2 linked regions of the Homo sapiens genome follow. The protein of the gene in region 1 interacts with the protein of each later gene in a pairwise test. Each region holds a gene or a part of one and is shown on either strand. Other genes may lie near its edges.

The links.
Region 2: the proteins of GSG1 (region 1) and PITPNC1 interact in binary tests that used the Homo sapiens proteins (3 or more experiments, as listed by UniProt).

What each region holds. Positions count from the first base shown.
Region 1 is NC_000012.12:13,102,134-13,105,884, reverse strand, and holds the start of GSG1 (germ cell-specific gene 1 protein), read left to right. Parts: upstream 1-2,217; 5' UTR 2,218-2,372; coding exon 2,373-2,420; intron 2,421-2,534; exon of another isoform or gene 2,535-2,617; intron 2,618-2,719; coding exon of another isoform or gene 2,720-2,800; exon of another isoform or gene 2,801-3,751. UniProt on the Homo sapiens protein: May cause the redistribution of PAPOLB from the cytosol to the endoplasmic reticulum.
Region 2 is NC_000017.11:67,527,182-67,530,932, forward strand, and holds part of PITPNC1 (cytoplasmic phosphatidylinositol transfer protein 1), read left to right. Parts: intron 1-3,751.

The sequences.
Region 1 (3,751 bases):
TACTATATGTGAAGTTGAACATTTTTTCATATATTTAGGGTCATTCATATGTCTCTCTCTCTCTCTCTCTCTTTTTTTTTTTTTTTTCTTTTTTTGAGGCAGTCTTGCGCTGTCACCCAGCATCGCCCAGGCTGGAGTTCAGTGGCAGGATCATGGCTCACTGCAGCCTCAACTTCCCGGGCTCAAGCAATCCTCCCACCTCGGTCTCCCAAGTAGCTGGGACTACAAGCGCTCACAACCTCGCCCAGCTAATTTTTGTACTTTTCGTAGCAATAAGGTTTCACTGTGTTGCCCAGGCTGGTCTTGAACTCCTGGGCTCAAGTTATCCTCCTGCCTCGGCCTCCTGACGTGCTGGGATTAAGCATCCGGCCATAATCTCATTTTTAAAATTCAGATCTCTAGTCCATCTAGAGTTTATTCTTGTATATGATTTTTAAATAAATATAATTTATATTTTTCTAAATGGCTATCTAGTTTATCCCAACAACATTTCTTAAAAAAATCATCTGTGCCCCAGTGATTACAGATATCACCTTTGTCCTATACTGGAAGTCTATACATAGCTGTGTTTATCTCTAGACTTTCTGTTCTCTTCCATTGGCCTGTTTGTCTAGTCATGCACCAGTACCACATTGTTTTTTTTTGGTTTTTTTGTTTTTTTTAATATACTTTAAGTTCTAGCGTACATGTGCACAACGTGCGGGTTTGTTACATATGTATACATGTGCCATGTTGTTTTAATCATAGAGGCTTTGTAGTATGCTTTATATCAATTAGGGCTAGCACCACCTCAGAGCTCTTCCTTTTCAGGGTTTTCCTAGCTAGTCTTGTGTATTTTTTTCCCATATAAACTTTAATATCAACTTGTGTTGGTCTTTTAAAATACTCATGGTTATTTGTATTAAATTTATAAATTAACTTATAACGGACATCTTGATCAATTTAAGATGTGCCAAAAATAAGGCATGTTGTTCCATTGGGGAAGTTATTGGCACTTCGAGATCCGATGTTCTCTCTTAGATACTTCCTTAGGTAGTTTAGGTCATTAAATAAAATAATAAATATTTCTTGAGCAGCTACTATGCCCTTGGCACTATATTAAGCACGATAGAAGTAAAAAACCAGATTCTGTCCTCAAGCAGCTTAGAATTTCACGAGAGAAACAGACTAACACACCAAAAGCAAAGCAGGCATGCTGTATGAGCAAAGAGGAAATGGGGAGTAAGGAGGGCTAGAGCCACAAGGTAGTGAGACTGGAATCATGTGCCCTGAGGTTGTGTAAGATTTAGGCAGGGCAGCAAGGAGAAGGAAGGGATCCCAGTGAGGGGAACCCTGGCAAAAGCTCAGAGGAGGACTGAGTGTGACAGGTTTCACAGGGCAGAGGGCCCCATCCAGACTGTTAGCTGGAATCCTGGATGAGGCCCTCTTCCAGTCTCCGAGAGTTATGCCTCCATATTAACAGTCCCCAAACACTAATTATGTATTCATTAAAATGATGTTAGTGAATGTTTGCTGGGTTTCCAGATACTAGCCCTTTAGAATGGTAATTTCTGTACATTGTTACCTTTTCAGGGAATGGCCTTGAGTTGTGCCATCCAATACAGTAGCTACTTGCCATGTGTGGCTGTGGAGCCCTTATGATATGGATAGTGCAACTGAGCAACTGAATTTCTAATTTTATGTAATTTGAATTCACTAAATTTTAATTTTAAAATGAAAGTAGTATAAAATATTTTTCATTAAACCCAACTTTATTGTGTGGGGAGGGCTACATTTTAAACATAGTATTGTATAACATATGATTGCTGTATCACAGTATGTGTGTCCAATTTACTTTTTTTAATGTGGCTACCAGAAAATTTTAAATGACATATGCTGCCCACATTGCATTTTGCTTTGACAGCACTGGTCTAGAGTCTCACAACTCAGTGTGGTCTGGCTGGACTCACGTGAGAGCCATCCCAGACTCTGCACTTGACTAAGTCAGGATCTGCACTTGACTAAGTTCCCCAGGTGAATCTTATGCACAATAAGATAAGCACTGATCTGGACGACCTCAGAAGACATCCAGCCACTGGTAGGTACCCAGCATGACCCCCCCCAATCCTTATGGGAGGAGGCTGAGGGAGCAACAGGGAGACCCCTGACTGCCGTTGTGACATCACAGAATAAACCCCACGGGTCACCCAACCCCGCCCTGGCTGGTGTCTGGCCCTCAGGACATCCTCTCCAATCCACCACACACCACCTTACCCCTCTGCTGGCAAGAGGGGACCTGATTCATCCTCACGCTAAACACTCATTCTACCCAACTGATTGAGACAGAACAGAAGATAAACTGAAACTTCTCTGCCTTCCCGCTGCAAGAGTGAATGAGCGATCCCTCTCAACTGACTCAAAATGTTTGCCTCACCCAGGAGGTAGGTACAGTGATTTTGAAATCTCATGAACATCTCATACACATATCTTTACTGCTGGATTTGTAACACAGGTTACACTAACTCATCAATTTCATGTATTTCACATGGTCACAGTAAAGAGCTTGGAAATGCACTATAGGGTTCTACAAAATGGAATGAAAATGTGTCACTCAGCCCAGTTTTCATAGATAAAACTGGTATGTCCATACCTTGGCCTATTACCTTTTCATCTTCCTTCATTAAAACTTCCATTTCTTCTTCCCTTGTCTCATCATCTTCCTTCTCCTTTCTGTTCCCAGGGCTCCCTATGCCTCTCCTTTTTTCCTTTCATCTGCATTATTCCCGTTGCCAAAATCTGGAGCCTGGTAAAGGCCCAGTAGCGGTGGCAACAATAGAGCTGTGTGTCACCCCAGTGAGCTGAAAGAGCAGACATCAAGCTCTATGCCAGAGAACAGTGGGGCATCCCCAAGGTCCTGCTGGAAGGCAGCTCTGATCTGGAACTGGGAAGGACAACACACAGTCAAGCTCTTTCTCGTCTCAGAGAATCCAGCAGAATCTTCAGGGATCCTTCCAGACCAGGAAGACTCTCACACTCTGCAGAGAAGTTGCGGCTTGTTTAGCATTTGACCTACATTCAGAAACGACCAGCCTCCCAACTTTCAGCTCTAAGGATTACTTAAAAAAACAAATGGTGTTCATTCTCAGATATCTTGCCTTTCTCAGGAGAGAAAAATGAAGCTTGCAATTAGCCAGCAAACTAGCACATACACAAACACACACACACGTACATACACTCCAACACAGGGAGCAATGTGGTATGTTGTTGACCAGCTGGAAGTTAGGATCTCAAAGGAAAGAACAGGATAACTTAAGAGGCACTTCTGGGACTGCAGAGCTGAGCTGGTGGTTCTGAAGAGCCATCGGAGTGTGGGTTCAGGCAGCTTCCCTAATTCAGAAGCAGCCCCAAGTGAATAGATGACAAAGAAGTGGATGTGAACATGACAGAAAAAGCCAGTCATGGCTTAGAATAAATTTTATTATTGTTCTTTATCAGTGGTTTTCCAGGAGAGACACAGAGGGAATATGGGAGCGTCTGGTTGCTAATATGTACCTGAGAAGTATAAAGTACACTTAATCCATTGCCTCAATCTGCAGGAGGTCCCATAAATCTGGCCTGCAATCTGTACATTTTGTTAAAGGTGACTGTGCCTTGGCTTTTACTGAGTGGCAGCCTGGTGATGAGTCAGGCGAACAGTCCTCAAAGATTGCCAGTGTTGACTTTACCATTTACTAGCTTTGTGGCCTTGAGCAAGTCAAACCCTCCGAATCGG
Region 2 (3,751 bases), on another chromosome or scaffold:
CCTCCCTCCCCTCTTTTTAAATCATCACGAGGCCTAGATTTTTAAAGCATTTAACTTGGTAAAGAAATAAGGGCTGAAGTTGTGTGGACTAGAATGAGTACAGGCCTGTGGGGGGTCAGAATCCCAATTCTGACATCTAGAAACTCTGTAACATACAGTCTTCAACCTGTCTGCAACTCAGCTTCCTCGTCTGTCAATACTCACTTGTCTGAATCATTGAGAGATTAGAATGAACATAGGCGGCCGGGTGTAATGGCTCATGCCTGTAATCCCAGCACTTTGGGAGGCCGAGGCGGATGGATCATGAGGTCAGGAGTTCGAGACCAGCCTGGCCAACATGGCGAAACCCCGTCTCTACTAAAAATACAAAAATTAGCTGGGTGTGGTGGTGGGCGCCTGTAACCTCAGCTACTGAGGAGGCTGAGCAGAGAATTTCTTAAACCCAGGAGGTGGAGGTTGCAGTGAGCTGATATCTCGCCACTGCACTCCAGCCTGGGAGACAGAGCGAGACTCCATCTCAAAAACAAAAAAAAGGAATATAGGCTGGGTGCAGTGGCTCACGCCTGTAATCCCAGCACTTTAGGAGGCCAAAGTGGGAGAATTGCTTAAGGCCAGGAGTTGGAGACTAACATAATGAGACCATGTCTGTACAAAAGTAAAAAAATAAAAATTAACTGGGTGTGGTGGCACACTTCTGTAGTCCCAGCTACTCAAGGGGCTGAGGCAGGAGGATTGCTTGAGCCCAGGAAGTCGAGGCTGAGGTGAGCCATGATCATGCCACTGAACTCTAGCCTGGGTGACAGAGTAAGACCCTGCTGCTTTTAATTTTTTAAATTATTTATTTTATTTACTTAGTTTGTTTTTGTTTTTGTTTTTTTGAGACAAAGGCTCCCTCTGTAGCCCAGGCTGGAGTGCAGTGGCGTGATGTCGGCTCACTGCAACCTCCACTTCCTGGGTTCAAGTGATTCTCCTGTCTCTGCCTCCCGATTAGCTGGGATTACAGGCGTGCACCACCACATCCGGCTAATTTTTGTATTTTTAGTAGAGACGGGGTTTTGCCATGTTGGCCAGGCTGGTCTTGAACCCCTGACCTCAGGTGATCCGCCTGCCTCGGCCTCCCAAAGTGCTGGAATTACAGGCATGAGCCGCTGCGCCCAGCCAGACCCTGTCTCTTTTAAAAGAAAGGCAAAAGAAATATAAAGCACTTAATCAGTGCCTTGCACTAATGGGCAATCAATAAAGTGATGCTGTATCATCATCATCAATTCTACGATCAATTCTCAGGCTTTGGAGGCTTTAGAATCTTTCTATGTCTTTGGATGTTGTGGCCTTTATTCAACATACAAGTTTGTTTGGAGCTGGTGGTCAGGGATATGGTATTTTCACTAAGTTAGGGATGGAGCTTTGTAAGAAATCAGTATAAAGGAGGAAAAAAGAAACAAGCGTCCTAAAGACAGAACATTTACAGCTGAGCAAGTGCTGATGGCTGCCTTCACCACGTTCTGCTGCAGCGGTTCTCAGCATTTATGTGCATTTCTGAAAGATTCCCACTCTTTTCTCCCCAGAGTCTGAATGGAGAAGGTCTGGAACAACCTGAGATTCAGCATTTTTAGGAGTGTCTCTGGAGATTTTGAAACACGTGGTTCAAGGACTCTCTGTCTCTTCTCCCTCCCCCAAACGAGAAACTGCTGCTTGTGTCTGAGAGTCAATACGAGATTTAAAAACAGCAACAAAACCACTGCTCCTGGAATGGCCCAGTTCCCATGGCCACGACCAGCAAAGTGGGCCTGATTTCCTTAGGAGGGGAAGAAGTGACGGCTGCAGAGCCCTTGACCATCTCGGTGTCTGGGCTCGAGTGTCCCGCCACCCCCAGCGTCTGCAGGTCACCCCCACACTGACGCCGTCTCAGTGAGCTAATGCCAGTGTCTGCCCCGCGCCGGCTCATTCAGCAGCCACTGGAATGATCAATGAGGCCGGCCGCCCAGCCCTCCACCGGCTGTTGGTGAATCAGCTGCCTCGGCCATTCCCATCTCCACTGAGCAGGAAGCACTCGAGCTGAGCCCAGCCAGGGCTGACTGGCGTCTGGCTAATGGCTTTTCTGTGTCATGCACTGACCTTGATCCCATATGTTTTTCATACGTGAGTGGGTTGGAGTGCCTGAAGATGGTCCAGTGGTGGAAATAGCTCTTCTGCCAAGCCCCTTACCGAGGTCCTGGGCAGTACTTTGGTTTAGAGGTGTCTGCTTCTGAAGCAGGATCGGTGCTTTTGTTTAAATTGAGGTGAAATTCACATAACATAAAATCAACCAGGTTAAAGGGAACAATCAGTGGCATCTAGTGCATTCTCAACGTTGTGCAAAACCACCTCTATCCAAAAACACTTCCATCGCTCCAGAAGGAACCCCTGCACCTGTTGCATGAGTTGACTAGGGCTGCTGTAACAAAGTGCCACAAACTGGGTGGCTTCAACAACAGAAATTTGGGGCCAGGAGCAAGTGGCTCATGCCTGTAATCCCAGCACTTTGGGAGGCTGAGGTGGGTGGATCATTTGAGGTCAGGAGTTCAAGACCAGCCTGGCCAACATGGTGAAACCCCGTCTCTACTAAAAATATAAAAATTAGTCGGGTCGTAGCGGCGTGCGCCTGTAATCCCAGCTGCTTGGGAGGCTGAGGCAGGAGAATCACTTGAGCCTGGTAGGCGGAGGTTGTGGTGAGCCAAGATCGCACCACTGCACTCCAGTCTGGGCGACAGAATGATACCCTGTCTCAAAACAAACAAACAAACAGAAATTTACTGTCTCACAATTCTGGAGGCTAGAAGTTTGAAATCAAAGTGTCAGCAGGCTTGGTTCCTTCTGGAGGCTGTGGGGTGAGGGAAGGATCCGGTTCGGACCTCAACCCTTGGCTTTTTTTTTTTTTTTTTTTTTTTTGAGATGGGGTCTCGCTCTGTCATCCAGACTAGAGAGCAGTGGTGTGATCTCTGCTCACTGCAAGCTCCGCCTCCTGGGTTCACGCCATTCTCCTGCCTCAGACTTCCAAGTAGCTGGACCACAGGCACCCGCCACCACACCTGGCTAATTTTTTTGTATTTTCAGTAGAGGTGGGGATTCACCGTGATCGCCAGGATGGTCTCTATCTCCTGACCTTGTGATCTGCCCACCTCAGCCTCCCAAAGTGCTGGGATTGCAGGCGTGAGCCACTGTGCCTGACCAACCCTTGGCTTTATAGATGGCCATTTTTCTCTCCACATCATCTTCCTCTATGCCTGCCTGTGTCCCTGTCTAAGTTTCCCTTTATTATAAGGACACCAGGCATTTTGGATAAGGGCCTACCCTAATGACCTCATTGTAACATGATTACTTCTGTAAAGACCCTATCTCCAAATAAGGTCACATTCTGGGTTACTAGGGGTCAGGACTTCACAGTATGTATTTTGCGGGGACACAATTCAACCTTTAACAACATTAGGCAGTATCAGTACTTTGTTCCATTCTATGGCTGAATAATATCCCATTGCATGTAAACATTTATTTTTTGAGCCCCAAGTACAAAGCAACTGTCAGTGAAATCTCCACCCCCTGGGTAGTGTGTGCCCATCTGTATAAGGTGGCATATTGATCTCACAGGTAGAGCTCACAAATCTGCAATGTGTAAACTTTTTCTTATTGTCTTCCTCCTTGAAAGAGTGTTAGCCTTTACGAGCAAAAGTCAAAGCAGTACTGGACTAAGGGAAGAGAAGTCAAGCTTCTGATC